3 separate regions of the Homo sapiens genome follow, and regions 1 and 2 are each linked to region 3. The links come from fine-mapping of genetic effects on gene expression. A gene starts in region 3. Each other region holds a variant in brackets. All regions are shown on one strand. Distances are from middle to middle.

Region 1 (5,000 bases), 21 kb after region 3:
CTAGTGTTGCCATAGCCACTTGAGAATCGTGTCAGACCTAGCCCCTGCTTGTCAGGTACTTCTGGGCTACTCTGGGGGACAAAGTATAACTATTCAAATGGCAAGTTGAATTAGTACAGTCTAGGAGCCTTGGAGATGGCTTCTTGAAAGAGGTAGAACCTGAAATTCTCCTTCCTTGAGGGACGGCCAGGATTTGGCCAGATGGAAAGGCAAGTGGAAGGCTTTGCAGGGACAAGCAATGTAAGCAGAACCTAGAAATGGGAAGGAACAAAAGTGAAGGGGAATGATTGTGGGTCAGGGGCCAATGGCGATGTGACATTCAGCCTATAGAACCATAGGGCAGAGGTGACAGTTGCTGGAATAGATGGGAGCTCAGTTTAAGGAAGATCGCCAAGCCAGACATCGCTGTTAGATGGATGTAATGGGGAATAAACTGCCATTGTCAACTCAAAAGTAACCAGGGCCAGGTGTGGGGGCTCACACCTGTAATCCCAATACTTTGGGAGGCCGAGGCAGGTGGATTACTTGAGGTGAGGAGTTTGAGACCAGCCTAGCCAACATGGTGAAACACCGTCTCTCTTAAAAATACAAAAATCAGCCGGACATGGTGGCAGGCACTTGTAGTCCCAGCTACTCAGAAGGCTGAGGCAGGAGAATCATTTGAACCCAAAAGGCAGAGGTTGCAGTGAGCCAGCTCACACTACTGCACTCCAGCCTGGGCAGCAGAGTGAGACTCCATCTCAAAAAAAAAAAAAAAAAAAAAAGTAACCAGGATGGGTAAAAGATGAAGAGGCAAGTCTCTCTCTGCTGAGAATACAATTAATGCATGTAAACTTGGCTCTCCTTATTATTTTAACTCCCTCTGTTAAAAGAGAGCTGTTTCACTTGCAAATAATATTTATCCAATCTTGACATGCCTGCAGATTATTAATGTCGCTGAAATTTTTTTCTCTTTCAACCTGTCAGTGTTCAAGCTCAAAGTCAGAACAAAACTTTCCAGGTTTTTTATCTGTGTTATTCATTGAGTAAATAAGGGTCTTGGAAGTACCCAGCACTCAGAGCAGAGAGAGACACTGCCTAGTCTAACTAAAGGTTTATTATAGAAGACGCAACCTTCCTATAGATGGGCACCCAACTTGGGTATTGAGCATGTGAGGCATGGCAAGGCTGCTTGAGGCTGGGACTCGTTTCTGCCTTTGATAACTCTGGCAGATTTTCCAGTCAGACACATACTTCATACTGTAACACCCCACTGTTATACGAGATAAGGAATTTGGGGATAAATTGTGTTCTCATTCTTAACAATTCTGTATGAGAATGATAGAGCATGCTTAGGCAGCAGCCTTGTGGTTTTGTCCTTTTAAACTAACAGGTAGAGGAAGCTGCTATTTTTGTTGATGCTTCTGAAAGCCCAAGTGTTTACTGTCCCTCCAGATCTCAGGCTGCTTGCCCTTCTGGAAAGTGTTTGAGATATGTTTGCATTATAAATAATTTACTCCTAGGCCCATGCCACTCCTGGGGCATCAGTCTGGAACTAGTCTCCATATAGATATCAGCCTGACCAGCCAGATGGTCCACCATTGACCTTGATGTGTCATTTGGCCATCATGAGCCACCTCATCTATAGCAGGAGGAAATTCGGGTAAACTGTTTCCTGAGTCCCTTCCAGCTACAACACTCTTTGATTCAAAAAGACAAATGTATGTTTTAAAAAACACTATTTGTTGAGTGCTTACCATGTGCCAAGCTGGGGGTAGAGTGGGAAACAGGACAACACTTGCTGTCTTGAGGGTTCCATCCTAATTAGCCTATCAGCAAGTAAGTGAACAAGACCAATTCAGATATGCATAAATGCAACAATGAAGAACAATGAAACCATAGTAAGGTGAAGATGGCAACAGGGAGGTTTTTGCATAAGATGGCCAGGGAAGGGCCCTCTGAGCCCGGGGCAGGCCACGTTTGAACTGAGACCTGAGGGATGGGATGGAGCCGAGCATGTAAAGATGTGGCAGAGGCAAAGGCCCAGAGGTGAGAATAAGCTTGGCCTATTCGAGAGACGAATAACCTGTGTAGCCGGAGCAGAGTGAATTTGTGCAAAACTAGGCTGGAAAAGGGGTAGAAACCAGATCAGGGAGAACCTTGCCAGTCATGGTAAGGAGCTTGAGTTTTTTCCTAAGCGCAAGGAGAAGCCATTTGAGGATTTTAAGCAAAGAAGTAACGTGAACTGATGGATTTTTAAAACTATGAATGCTATGCTAAAATAAACTGTAGGGAAGAAGACGTAAGAAGCCTGCTCTTGATACGAGAGCAGTGAGATAAGAGGGAAATCTCTCTTCTGCCCATTCGTCTTGCACACACCACTTCAAACTTTGGTTGATATCCGCTCTGAGATTTGCTATACGATATTGCTTGCAACTAGATTTGTCTCCTATTCGTTGCCTCCAGAACTAGCATGAGCCAAAGCTGAAGGGCAGGATGTGGTTTCAGCATGCGGTGACCACCATCCCTCCCTCCAGTAGCTCAGAGCCATTCCTGGTACTG[C/T]ACGGCTCGTCACTGCAGATCATGCCGGATGCCCAGAGTGCCCACACGATAATGACACCACGGAATTCCAGAGGAGCCGAGAAGCCTCCTCCTCCTTCCCCTTCCCTCCCCCTGCCTCTCTTTAAACATAGCCACAAATTACTAGCACCTGGGCTAAAATTTGCCCAGTCAAAAACAAGCAGCCACTTCCAAACAAGACATTTTCCTCTGTTCTTTTTTTCTCTTGTGGCTAGGGGCAAAGAATCCAATTGGCTAAGTCATCCTGGTACACAGATTGCTAGATACAAACCTACTTTCCTAGGCACGCAGCTCTCTTAACACAAATAAAATCGATAAATTTGGGCTGTGCGCGATGGCTTACGCCTGTAATCCCAACACTTTGGGAGGCCAAAGCAGGCAGATCACCTGAGGTCAGGAGCTCAGGACCAACCTGGCCAACATGGTGAAACTCGATCTCTACTAAAAATACAAAAATTATCCAGGTGTGGTGGCGGGTGCCTGTAATCCCAGCTACTCAGAAGGCTGAGGCAGGAGAATCATTTCAACCTGGGAGGTGGAGGTTGCAATGAGCCGAAATCACGCCATTACACTCCAGCCTGGGCAACAGAGCAAGACTCTGTCTCAAAAATTAAAAAATTTAAAAATCGGTAAATTCTGCTCTCTTCACTACTAGTTCCATACATCACTACCTAGTAGTAGCTCTGGGCCTATAGAGTGATGCTGATGTGGAAAGTAGACTCTGTGGTTTACCCAAAGCAGTTGCCTCATCCTAAATGTGCTGGTAGCACTTTCTGAGCATTACAGTGCCCTTAATATTAAAAGTTGTTTACCAGTCACAACATATTATTATATAAAATTTCTTTTTTTTTTTTTTTTTTGAGATGGAGTCTTGCTCTGTCGCCCAGGCTGGAGTGCAGTGGTGTGATCTCAGCTCACTGCAAGCTCTGCCTCCCGGGTTCACGCCATTCTCCTGCCTCAGCCTCCTGAGTAGCTGGGACTACAGGCACCCGCCACCGCATCCGGCTAATTTTTTGTATTTTTAGTAGAGATGGGGTTTCACCATTAGCCAGGATGGTCTCGATCTCCTCACCTCGTGATCCGCCTGCCTCAGTCTCCCCAAGTGCTGGGATTACAGGCGTGAGCCGCCACGCCCAGCCCAATATTATATAAAATTTTCTAGACTCTGTTTCCCCAGAACATAACAATAAATGGTATTGCTCCCATTTTGGAGTAAAATTTGGCCCTCCATGCAAATTGATTGGCCTTGACAAACTGAAGTCCTGAAACTGTCAGAATATATGTTCTGCCAGGCACAGTGGCTCATGCCTGTAATCCCAGCACTTTGCGAGGCTGAAACACGAGGATCGCTTGATCCCACAAGTTCGAGGCCAGCCTGGGTAACTAGGAAGACCCTGTCTCTACAAATAGAAATAAAAAAAATTAGCCAGGCATAGTGCTGTGCCCCTGTGGTCCCAGCTACTTGGGAGGCTGAGGTGGGAAGATAGCTTGAGCCTCGGAGGTAAAGGCTACAGTGAGCCATGACTGTGCCACTGCACTCCAGCCTAGGTGACAGAGTGAGACTTTGTCTCAACAAAAAAAAAAGAAAATGTGTTCTCTGTTAGACATATCTGGGCTCAAGTCCTGGCTCCAGCATTTGCTACTGCTGGTATGGCTTTAGGTGAGTACTTCTCTGAGCCTCAATATCCTCAATGGTTAAATGGAGAAGCTATCTCACTGGGTTGCTGTAAAAGATAAACAAGATTACAAATGTATAGTGCTTAGCTGCAGTTGCTGACACATAGTAAGCACCCCATTGTTATTGTTATTGTTAGCAAAATAAGACTCCATGGTAGAAAAACTATGCAAGTCATAAAATGTATCAGCATTAACTTTTATCAACAGATAGGGTGCTATTAAATGTATCACCAACATAGTAAAATGACAGAAAGGAATATTACAGTGTGAAAGCATTTATTTATTTGTTTGACAACAGCTACAATTGAAATACAGCAATTCTGAAGGTCTTTAAATGGGTTGCACTTTGCCCTGTTAACTCACTATTTCCTGATTGGCAATAATTTTACTTGGTAATGCTCTGTATTATGGTAAAAGCTAACAATAATAATTTATCGAGTATATTCTTTGTAGCAGGCACAGTTATGAGTGCTATGTGAATACATTTAATCTTCACAGCAACTTTGAAGTAGGTACTATTACTGTGCATATTTTGAAGATGGGAAAACTGAGGCAGACAGTTTGCCTCTGGAGCCCTCACTCTTAAACTCTTATGATATATACCAGAAACTGTGACATAGCCCAGGTGCCAAATCTGGCCCTCCACCTGCTTTTGTAAATAAAGTTTTATTGGAATACACCCATGCCCACTCATTTACACATTGTCTATAGCCATTTCGGTGCTATAGCTTCAGGGTGGAGTAGTTGCTACAGAGACCACGTGG
Region 2 (5,859 bases), 140 kb before region 3:
ATCAGTGCTTTATACATAAAAAAATTAAGGGCTTTTTCACCCCCTAAAAACCAATTTGTGCTTGCTCTCGGAGAATGTGTATGTATAAGAAAGAAAAGGGAGAGGAAGAGCCAACGGCTTGGGAGCAGCCGTCAAGATCACAGCTGGTCGGGTGCAATGGCTCATGCCTGTAATCCCAGCACTTTGGGAGGCCGAGGTGGGTGGATCGCCTGAGGTCAGGAGTTCGAGACCGGCCTGGCCAACATGGTGAAACCCCGTCACTACTAAAAATACAAAAATTAGCTGGGCATGGTGGCACACACTTGTAGTCCCAGCTACTCAGGAGGCTGAGGCATGAGAATTGCTTGAACCCAGAAGGTGGAGGTTGCAGTGAGCCAAGATGGTGCCACTACACTCCAGTCTGAGTAACAGAGCGAGACTCGGTCTCAAAAAAAAAAAAAAAAAAAAGGTCACAGCTAACAGTTCGGGATATGGGGCCACAGACAGAAGGTGGTACAAAATAAAGGGGAAGTGGCATTTCATCGGCAGCAGGAGAAGCCTTGGGGAATGAAGTGGAACTAAGCACTTGAAAACCACAGACATCTTCCCTCAAAAAAAAAAAAAAAAAGTGGTTAAATGAAGGGGGAGGTGAAGGGGGAGGGACACCAACCCAAATTCTGATCCATGGCTTCTTAACAAATAATGCTTAACATCTGACACTGTTTTTAAATATAACTTTGCAACAAGATGGTTCTTGCTTTTTTATTTCTATTCCTGGAATTTCTCCTCCCCTCCTTTCTCCTCCTCCACAACTCATCTTTTTCTATTGAAGGCCATGTCTCTCTCTCTCCCCTCTTTCCCTTTGCCAGTCTCTCTGCTCTGCTCCTGCCATGCCTCTGCCTCTCTCCTCCATGGCTCCAAATCCCTCTCCCTCCTTTCTCTCCAGGTCTTCTGCCTTGTCCGTCCCTCTGTCTGTTAGCAACTCGACCTCCAGCCAAAGTCACTGAGAGATGAGAGATCTTGAGGGACTCAAAAGGGACAGGTTGAACACAATGAAGACCCAGGATTCCAAATGACCCCCAGAGAGACTGGATCCATCCGAAGGGCTTGTGAGGGTTCCGTGATCACTCCGACATGGCCCACGGAGTGTTTTATTCCAAGAAGCTCTGTCCCATCTCAGAATCAACCACACGTCCTGGGCCATCTCAACATGTGGGCAGTTACCTCAGAAGGCTTCAGGCCTGGCTAGATATAGTAGTTTGGCCAGATTTCCTAATCTCCCAAAGCCACAGAACAGAGCCCTGTGCACCCCATCCCTACCCACCCTCCACCTTCCTGCCCGTGTCCCAGCACGGGGCAAGGAGCCAAGCAGCGGAGCAGGGGGACACACAGGCTGGGGGAGAGACAGACACCACCTGTCTCCTGTAGTGTCTGCCACCTGCTCCACATCCACTGCAAACCCTCCCTCACTCCCCCACATACTCCCATCCTGATCATTTCTCTCACTGTCTCAGCTCAGCCCTCTCACTGGGGCAAGAGAAGAAAGAATCAGATCCCTGAGCCACACTTTTTGGGTCTGGAGTACAAGGTAGGGTCTAAGCCAAAAAAGAAAAGAAAAGAAAGACTCCTGGTTAAAAAGAGTTCTCTGCTTCTTTTATGAGATCCATTATGTTCTACCTGGAATTACATCTTTTCTGGTACAAGTATCGTCTCCTTTGCTAGGCTGTAAGAATCTTCTGGCAGAGCAATCTTTGGATTTATTTTTCTCCTGAGTCCTATCATCACTTCTAGCACCTGGGTTTTTCAAGCTTCCAATAAATTAGATTCAAAATAAATCCTACAAGTTGCTAGTGATTTGAGTTGTGTTGACTGGTACTAATATCCTTGCTAATCATGGTATGAGGGAAAAACTGCTTAATTGCTTAATTCCACATCTCTGTGTTGACAATTTTCTTAGTTTTATACCAGGGGTCAACCAACTACAGCCTGCAGGCCAATTCAGGCTCACTGCCAGGTTGTGTACAGTCCTGCTAGCTTAGGGCAATTCATTTTCAAATAACTGTTAAAACTCAAAAGAAAGATAATACTTTGTAACATGTAAAAACTGTATGAAATTCAAGAGTTTTAGGGCCAGGCACGGTGGCTCACGCCTGTAATCCCAGCACTTCGGGAGCTGAGGTGGGTGGATCACCTGAGGTCACGAGTTCGAGACCAGTCTGGCCAACATGATGAAACCCCCGTCTCTACTAAAAATACAGAAAAAAATTAGCCAGGCATGGTGGTTGACTGTAATCCCAGCTACTTGGGGGGCTGAGGCAGGACAATTGCTTGAACCCAGGAGGCGGAGATTGCAGTGAGCCGAGACTGCACCATTGCACTCCAGCCTCGGCAACAAGAGCAAAGCTCTGTCTCAAAAAAAAAAAAAAAAAAAAAGAAATTCAAGAGTTTTAGTGGAACACACACACACGTGGACACCTCTGCAACCTTTGGGGAATTGACCTCTGCCTTCCCTTTCCTGATCACAAAATTGAAATAACGTGATAAAGGAAATAATGATAGGAAATAAAGCCCTATCTCAAGGGCTGTTTTAAGGCATGAATGAGCAAATGAGTATAACATGTGTAGAACAGTGCCCACTGTTTGTGAACACACCATAAACGTTCTTATCTCCATTGCTGTTATTTTTTCTACAGGTGGACCTTCAGGGGATCAAAGCAAAGTTCCAAGAGAAGTATCAGAAGTCTCTCTCTGACATGGTTCGCTCAGATACCTCCGGGGACTTCCGGAAACTGCTAGTAGCCCTCTTGCACTGAGCCAAGCCAGGGCAATAGGAACACAGGGTGGAACC[G/A]CCTTTGTCAAGAGCACATTCCAAATCAAACTTGCAAATGAGACTCCCGCACGAAAACCCTTAAGAGTCCCGGATTACTTTCTTGGCAGCTTAAGTGGCGCAGCCAGGCCAAGCTGTGTAAGTTAAGGGCAGTAACGTTAAGATGCGTGGGCAGGGCACCTTGAACTCTGGCTTAGCAAGCATCTAGGCTGCCTCTTCACTTTCTTTTAGCATGGTAACTGGATGTTTTCTAAACACTAATGAAATCAGCAGTTGATGAAAAAACTATGCATTTGTAATGGCACATTTAGAAGGATATGCATCACACAAGTAAGGTACAGGAAAGACAAAATTAAACAATTTATTAATTTTCCTTCTGTGTGTTCAATTTGAAAGCCTCATTGTTAATTAAAGTTGTGGATTATGCCTCTATCAGCTGCTTTTCCAAAGATTGTCTTGATAAGTTTGGGCTCTTCTCTGGGAAATGTATGACTTGTGAAATTCAAACCTACATTTTTTAGTGGTCACTAATCAAGGCTAGTCATAAGGAAACAATTCACTTGCTTTTGTAAACTGTAACTAAGGGTAAAATTCCCTAATCTGCTACCTGGTTTAACTGGGTTTTCTTCTCTAGACATTTGACCCACTTGAGTCTTCCCTCTGATCTTCAAATACAATTAAGCTGAGCAAAGTGCCAACAAGATCAAGATCAATGGTCTACCTCTGAAGTGAATTGGTTCCACACCAATAGATTCTGTGTTCCAAAACTTTAGTCTCATAGCCACGTGTTGCTAGACATAGAGGGATCTGTCAAGAGAACCTGGACACTTTGGCCCAATAATCATAGTTGTCATTCATTGGCTGATTATTTGTGCCTGACACTGAGTAGTCCAATTTCATTCTTAATCCTCCCCACAGCTCTATGTGGTTAATATTACTCCCAATTATCAGTTGAGGAAACTGACACATTAAGTAACCTATCTAAATTCATTTACAAGTGCTGTTTTCACACTGCTATAATTACCGGTAAAAAATTACCAAGACTGGGTAATTTATAAAGAAAAGAGGTTTAAGTGACTCACAGTTCCGCAGGGCTGGGGAGGCCTCAGGAAACTTACAATCATGGTGGAAGGGGAGGAGGCACGTCTTATGTGGCAGCAGGAAAGAAAGAGTGGTGAGCGAAGCGGAAAGAGCCCCTTATAAAACCATCAGATCTCATGAGAACTCCCTCACTGTGACGAGAACAGCATGGGGGACACAGACCCCATGATCTAATCACTCCCACCAGGTCTTTCCTGGGGATTACAATTGACACATGAGGATTACAATTTGTGATGAGATTTGGGTGGTGACATAGAGCCAAACCATGTCAACTAGCATTTCAATCCAGGGCTGGCTGACACCAGGAATCATGCTACTAACTGCCTTAATTGGAAAAATCAGTTGAAGTACATGGGAATGGGTCTGTATTCATTCATCTGCTTAGTTCCCTACTATCTGCCAATCACTGTGGTGTGCTCTGAGGATACAAAGACAAGTAGAACACTGACTCCCCTTGGGGCAGTTCATTCCCAGGTCAATAATGTCTCTTTTATTCAATAGAATGCTGTAAGTGCATTAATAAGAGCAGTATATTTGTTCATTTTCACACTGTTCATTTTCACACTGCAGTAAAGAACTACCTGAGACTGGGTAATTTATAAAGAAAACGGGTTTAATTGACTCACATTTCCACCTGGCTGGGGAGGTCTCAGGAAACTTACAATCATGGCAAAAGGTAAAGGGGAAGCAAAGCACGTGTTACATGGTGGCAGGAGAGATGGGGGAGGGGAAGTGCCACACTTTTAAACCATCAGATCTTGTGAGAACTCACTCACTATCATAAGAACAGCATGGGGGAAACTCCCCCCATGATCTAATCACCTCCCAGCAGGTCCCTCCCTCGACACATGGGGATTACAATTCAAGATGAGATTTGGATGGGGACACAGAGCCAAACCATATCAAGCAGGTAAAGGGCTCTACCTATGAGTAAGAAGAGAGAACACACAGCTCTGCATGGGGAACTGGGGAACACTTCCCAGAGATGCATTTGTGCTGGGTTTTAAAGAATGCATAGAAGCTCTCCAGAAAAATAAAAGAAGAAGGGCACAAGCAGAGGCTGGAGAAGCCTGAGTGGGCAGGGTGTGTTCAGGGAGAGGTGAAATCCATTCTCCTGGGGCACAGATGTGTGGAAAGAAAGGAATGGCCCTGGCAGGCAGGCAAAGCAGCTGTGAAAATAGGTTTGAACCACATCAGCCATGGTTCTGCCTGCCAAGCATGAGTTTGGTCCTCTGGGCAACAGCAGTCATTGGAGATGTTTAAGCGAAGAACATGATCACATCTGGGCTTTGGGAAATCACTTTAGTGGCTGCTAGACATAGAGGGATCTGTCAACAGAACCTGAACACCTTGGTCCAATAATCATAGTTATCCTTCATTGGCTGATTATTTGTGCCTGACACTACTAAGTAGCACAATCTCATTCACACCATTTGGGGTGTGATCAACATATAACAAACAGCCCAATCAGTTAAGGATAGATGCCATAATTGTCTTTTTAGTTGCTACAAAACAGTGATGGACATATTAAGAAGTTATGTTAACATCAGTGTCTTCCACATCCTGGTTTATCTACTTAATAGTCATTGCCATCATTATAAACTTTAATACATAAAAAATTATTTTCTAGAACCAAGCTCAGTGACAAAACGTATTTGTATTTACCTATTTGTTGCCAAAGCTGGTCTTTGCTTTTATAACCAGAAACAAAACAACCAGTTTTTGGGATCTGAGCTCATGGTAAGGACAGAAAAACAAATCAATGGACTGAAAAGAGATCTATTAAAAACAGACACAATTTGAGATTGTTGATGGCCATAATTCACACAGAGACAAGCAAGAAGATATTTTACAGGTGGAGAAACTGAGGCTGATAAGATGGAGAAGCCAGGTCATTTACTCAAGATCACCCACATAAAGTACCAGGGCCAGAATTCAACCCAAGTCCTTCT
Region 3 (5,785 bases):
TGGTGGCTCATGCCTGTACTCCTAGTAGTTTGGGAGGCCAAGGCGGGAGGATCACTTGAGGCCAGAGTTTGAGACCAGCCCGAGCAACATAGCAAGACCCCATCTCTCCAAAAAAAAAATGTTTTAATCAACCAGGCATGGTGGTGCACGCCTGTTGTCTTAGCTGCTCAGGAGGCTGAGGCAGGAGAATCACTTGAGCTCAAGAGTTCAAGGCTGCAGTGAGCCATGATTGCACCGGTACACTCTAGCCTGGGTGATAGAGCAAGACTCTGTTTCAAAAAAAAAAAAGAAGTCTCAAATTAGATTTTTTTATGGTAAGAGAAATCTGAAATAGTCAATCACACTTCAGAAGAAGCCTGCATTAAGATATGATAGCAACAATTCTGTTTGTTTGTTTTAAGGAACAGAAAGCGGAAGGACTAGAGACAAACACTGAGGCTTCCTAAGATTAGTTATTAGACAAAAAGACAAGGACAAAAATAATTGTAATTTCCTATTTGTGCTTGAATTTTAGAAGTTAAAGAAACTTTCACCAACTTTGAGCCACTCAACCCTTTATAGTAGTCAGCTATCGACACAATAATGCTGTGTAACAGTAAATCACAAAAATCTCAGTGGCATCAACAAGACACATTTATTTCTTGCTAACACATCTGTGAGGTCAACGGGAGTGTCTGCTCCATGTGTCACATCCTGGGACACACGGATGTCACTCAAACCACTCCAGGAGCAGTGGCTACACAGGGTATGCTCTTTTCATGGAGCAGGTGAACACACAAAACATCAAGACCAACCAGGCAAGTACATACATCAGATCCTCTGCTCACATCACATCCATCAGCATCCCCTTGGCTAAAGCCAGTCATATGGCCAAGCCCATTGTCAAGAATTAGAAAAATACACATCACCAAAAAGTGTGGGCACATGACGCTACTGGAAAGGAGGGAAGAATGGGTACTAATAATTCAATCTACCACAGCTTTTAAACCATCCTGAAAGGTAGGCATTATTGGCTCCATTTTTTCTTGACAGTTAAGTAAATGGGGCCCTAAGAGTTTAAGTCATTCATCCAAGGGAGGACAGGTAGTATGCTGCTCCAGCAGAATTAGAATTCAAAACTTCTACCTTCTGGCCCTCTGTGGTCTCTACAGGTATGTAGCCAGCTTACTAATACATAACTAACCCACATTGTTCATAATCACATCCCAGGCGGGCATGGTGGCTCACGCCTGTAATCCCAACACTTTGGGAGGCCAAGGAAGGAGGATCACTTGAGCCCAGGAGTTTAAGACTAGCCTGGGCAAGATAGCAAAACCCTATCTCTACAAAAAATATAAAAAATTAGCCTGGTGCAGTGGTGAGTGCCTGTAGTCTCAGCTACTGGAGACTGGGGCCGAGGTGGGAGGATGGCTTGAGCTGGGGAGGCTGAGGCTACAGTGAGCCATGATCACTCACTCTAGCCTGAGTGACACAATGAGACCCTGTCTCAAAAATAATAATAATAATAATCACATCCCTTAATTATGCAGATACCAATTCCCTCCAACAGAGACCAGACCCAACACTGCCTCATTTGTTAGCACCATCACAGTGTTTAACATTTGTTTGGGACTTCTTCAATGTTTTTACAAGCTTTTTTTTTACTATTACTACACTAATAAATTATTTACGGTGGGAAATCTAAATCAGAAAGCTCTGGCTTCTTGAAAACAAACTTTATTAAAAACGTCTTCCCAGTCCAACATGTAGCCTCATAGGGCACACACAATTTCTTTGCCTGAGCCTTAAAGATTACACCGAGTCAGTGGACTAGATGATATTGATGGCTGCAGAGAAAGAAGAATGGAAGAATGAAGTTTGAAGCTAATGCTTGAGTATGGGATTTTTACTCTGCTGCTGCTGTCCTGTGCAAACTAATTGCCAAATAGACCAGGCTGTAAAGCATCATAACTAGAGGTGATGAAGGGCAAGAAGCCACCCTCATGCCAGCAGCCTCCCGTATCCATTCACTTATTCACACAAATAGTTGTTGAAGGCCTGCACTGGGCCTGGCAGGGTGCAGGGGCTGAAATGCCTCCGGAACAAGACAGACCAGCTCTCATGGAGTTCCCACTGCAGACAGGGGTAGATTGTTGTAACAACAGCAAAAAGTAAAAGCAAACAGGGTAGTTTCAGATTGTACTGTAGCATTGGCCCTGGGTACATCATTTAACCCGTCTCTTAGAGGGTTCGGGTAGGATAGGGGCGCTGTTCTTTTTCTCCACTCCCAACCTGCGGGAGCCAGATACCTCCCAGGGCTTCCTCTCCTTCCCCTCCTTTGCTGCCCCAGGGGCAGGTCTGAAGGAGGACTGGTTAGTGACAGCTAAGGGGCCCGGAGGGCTGGGAGGCTGTCCCTCCTCCCCGCTCCAACCCCCGCGCGCTAGGGCGGGGTTGGGGCAGTGAGCGAGGTCAGGAGGCTGCGCCCCCTACTCCCCGCCCGGCGGGCGCGGTGCCGGCCCCAGCTCTGCGGACGGCCCGGGAGGCTGATCTGGCTGCGGAGGTCGATCCTGATAGCTCGGGGGCAGGAGGGGGGCTGGCCCTGCTCCTCACGCCCACCCCGCAGGGACCCAGACGCCCCTCCGGCCCCCTCCCTGCACCCCGTCAGCCCGGGAGCTGCAGGAGACCGGGGCGCATCTTTCCAAGCGCCGGGCCTCGCTCTGGGACAACGGTGTCCTGGGGGCGGGGAGGGCGCGCGGAGGTGCCAGGGGCGGCGGGGTACCCGGCCCGGCAGCACCGCTTCAAGTTTCCACCGGCGCGGTTGTGCAACCGGGAGGGGAGCGTGAGCCGCAGGCGCCTCGGAAAACAAGCCGAGCCCATAAACAAAGCCACGTGGCCTCCGGGCCGGGGGGCCGGGCTAAGAGCGGGCGGCTCTTCCGGCAACAAAGAGCTGCGGCCGGCTGCGGGGATAAATACTGCGGCAGCTACTGCCGCGCAGCACTCCCGGAGCCTGCAACGCTTGAGATCCTCTCCGCGCCCGCCACCCCGCAGGGTGCCCCGCGCCGTTCCCGCCGCCCCGCCGCCCCCGTCGCGGGCCCCTGCACCCCGAGCATCCGCCCCGGGTGGCACGTCCCCGAGCCCACCAGGCCGGCCCCGTCTCCCCATCCGTCTAGTCCGCTCGCGGTGCCATGCCATTCCTCGGGCAGGACTGGCGGTCCCCCGGGCAGAACTGGGTGAAGACGGCCGACGGCTGGAAGCGCTTCCTGGATGAGAAGAGCGGCAGTTTCGTGAGCGACCTCAGCAGGTGAGGGGACCCGCTACCAACTTCCAGCCCCCGCGAAACTGACCCGGGCTGGTCTGGGGGGCGCAGGGACGGCGAATGAGGGGCAGGCAGGGCTGGAGCGGGCTGAGGAGGGAGACCCTGACCCGGAGGGTGGGACTACGGGGCCCGATTTCTGCAGAGGTCTTCGGACCACCGGAGACAGGGAATTCGGTTTCTCTTATTGTTCAAGGTCAGTGTCTCCAAGTGGACACGACTCCTTACAGAACACCTGGTCCCTCTGAGAGTCTGATGACATTCGCGGATCGTGTCCCCAAACGTTCGCTCAAACTTAATCACACAGCTTTAGTGGTCCCTGCTTTAAGGACACCGGAGTCGCGCACTTTGCCCATGTGGGGGCGCGGGCGGGTGGGCTGAGCCCCTTCACCGCGGGGTGGCCCGGCTCCCAGCGCCCAAGCGCTGTGGACGCGACAGGTGACGGGATCCGACGAAGGTCCCGCCTGGAGCGCTTCCAGGCCCTGCCCAGGCACGGGCAACCACGAAGTGGCCGGGAGGATGAGTAACCAGGAAGGGACGGCCAGATGGTCCCTGGGGCAGCCGCTTACTGGGCGGACTTGCGAGCGGTGGAGGCTTGGGGCTGCAGAGGTGCAAAGGAGGGAAGGGGGCAGGGGATGAATCCCACAAGAGCTCTGCTTCTGGGAGGACAGGGCTCTTGCACCTGTTTCCTCGGTGGCCCTCTCGGTCGGTCTGCTTTGTATAGAGTGCACTCCGTTTCCAGGGGTGCCTGTCAGCTGCGAAAAGCCTGCCTGGCCCCGGTGAGCCTCTGGATTCGAGGCCTCACCTGAGCTCTGTGGTCTGGCGGGAAACCTGAGGTCCGCTGCGCTCCCTGCTCAGCTTGGCTAACGATGCCAGCGCCGGCTAGTACGCAAGGTAGCCTGGAATTTCTCAGCCCCTGACCTCGACAGTTGACTTTCAGAGACTCTCAGCATTTAGCCCGGTGAGCGGGGGCGATGAAAGTGATTCCAGAATGGACTGGTGCAGCCAGAGTCACCCTTGGGAGCCTTTTCCTGCCACCTTTGGTTAAAACCATGGGCCCCTGCACCCTTAAATTGACTTCAATGGAGAATTCTGTTTCTGGGCCAGGTTCCCGCTTACTGAGATTTACCAGTCGTTGCTTGGATGAAGCATTGGCAATAAATTTTGAGAAAACTATCAAGAAAATGTGGTTATTTTGGCAACTTGAACTCCCGTGCCTCCCATTTGTTTGTGATTTGTAATGCATCAAATTCCCATTGTCTCACAATGTAAAGAAAGACATTATTTAATTCTGGGGGTCTGTCCGGAGAGACTTGAGCGTATTAACCACCAGCATATAACCATTTACGTTGGAGTTACTTGGAGGCTGTCCCAGGGGAGTTTAGGGACCACCATAAGGAAATCTTATTTACGTAAAATCAAGTAATTTATTTACGGGAAAGTAAGACCAACTGCTATTGACAGACTATGTCTTTTATCGACTGGAGTTACCAATTATGCCTAAATTATTCTCCCTCAACAAAATGGGAACCTTCCTTCCTTCCTCCTTGTTCCTAAGGACAATGATCTAATATGTTGGTACTTTATTTCTGTATACAAGTTCAGGTTCTTTCTAGAAAAGTGCCGAAAGGGTCTGAAGAGTCATGTTAGAGCTGCTCACCCAAATATAATTGCAGGATGCTCCTCAGTGGAGAACAGATGATTGAGTTCAGCAGAAGATTTAAAATGTAGGGTCGTATTAATACTTACCCTACTCGGGAGGCTGAGGTGGGAGGATGGCTTGTGCTCAGAAGTTCAAGGCTGCAGCGAGTCATGACTGTGCCACTGCGCTCCAGCCTGGGCCACAGAGCGAGACCCTGTCTCTAAAAATAAATAAAAATTTAAAATTTGTTTTAAAATACCCTATACCGGCATCAGGAGAGAAACTGGTGTCACTCTCCTTTAGAAATAGTGGTATCTCTGTCTTCACAGTATGGAAGACCTGAAGATGGTCTTAACTTACCACAAAAGTTTAGACTGGGCTGGAATCAGGTGGTTTCCTGCACAGCCCCCCTCCCGTGTCCTGTTCATGAGCCTCTTTTTCTTCCCATTTCACACCTGAGCTGGAGCTGTCACATCCATCATCATTACCGCAAATAGTCATTGATATACTGACCACCTGTGGTCCTTTGAGTCAGCGTTTAGGAATCATTTGGTAGCCTCCTAGCAAAGCAGCTGGCTGTTTGTTTGCAGGGTATTTTTTTTTCCAGCAACTGTAAACAATCCCTTCCCTGCTTAGCATGAGAAGCCTGCAACTTCTTAAAAGCAGTTGGCCTTCTGTGGTCTGGGTTTGTCATCTCAAATATCCTCACTGTTTTTGGTCTTGGTGATGTTTCCCCGTGATGTCAGGTTTGGACTGCGTGCCTGCCTGCACAGGTGAAGCTGAATGCCTCTCCTGTTATGAGAAAACAAAAGGCAGGCCCTTAAGCGGGGAGGGACCGTGAAACAGAGAAC

Which allele goes with the higher level. Positions count from the first base shown, and alleles are read on the strand shown. Sizes are in standard deviations (SD) of each study's normalised expression. Not every link is listed here.
In carriers of allele G in region 2, the expression in fibroblasts of the gene that starts at base 2,973 in region 3 tends to be higher than with A alone (small effect, 0.21 SD a copy in GTEx).

Evidence for each region.
Region 1: its variant is fine-mapped to the expression of FBXO32 in whole blood (TOPMed, PIP above 0.99).
Region 2: its variant is fine-mapped to the expression of FBXO32 in fibroblasts (GTEx, PIP above 0.99).

The regions. Positions count from the first base shown.
Region 1 is chr8:123,517,970-123,522,969 of GRCh38, reverse strand. The region is part of intron 4 of FBXO32 (F-box protein 32); the gene reads left to right. Among named protein-coding and RNA genes, the nearest start is that of FBXO32, 21 kb to the left of the region's middle. The variant C/T (reference allele first, on the strand shown) is at 2,542.
Region 2 is chr8:123,678,173-123,684,031 of GRCh38, reverse strand. It overlaps ANXA13 (annexin A13), which reads left to right. Exons shown (of 11, transcript NM_004306.4): 11 at 2,673-3,238. The coding sequence ends at 2,792. Among named protein-coding and RNA genes, the nearest start is that of KLHL38, 27 kb to the right of the region's middle. The variant G/A (reference allele first, on the strand shown) is at 2,828.
Region 3 is chr8:123,538,394-123,544,178 of GRCh38, reverse strand. It overlaps FBXO32 (F-box protein 32), which reads left to right and starts at 2,973. Exons shown (of 9, transcript NM_058229.4): 1 at 2,973-3,280. The coding sequence starts at 3,165. RefSeq lists silencers at 2,447-2,736, 2,827-2,936, 2,987-3,076.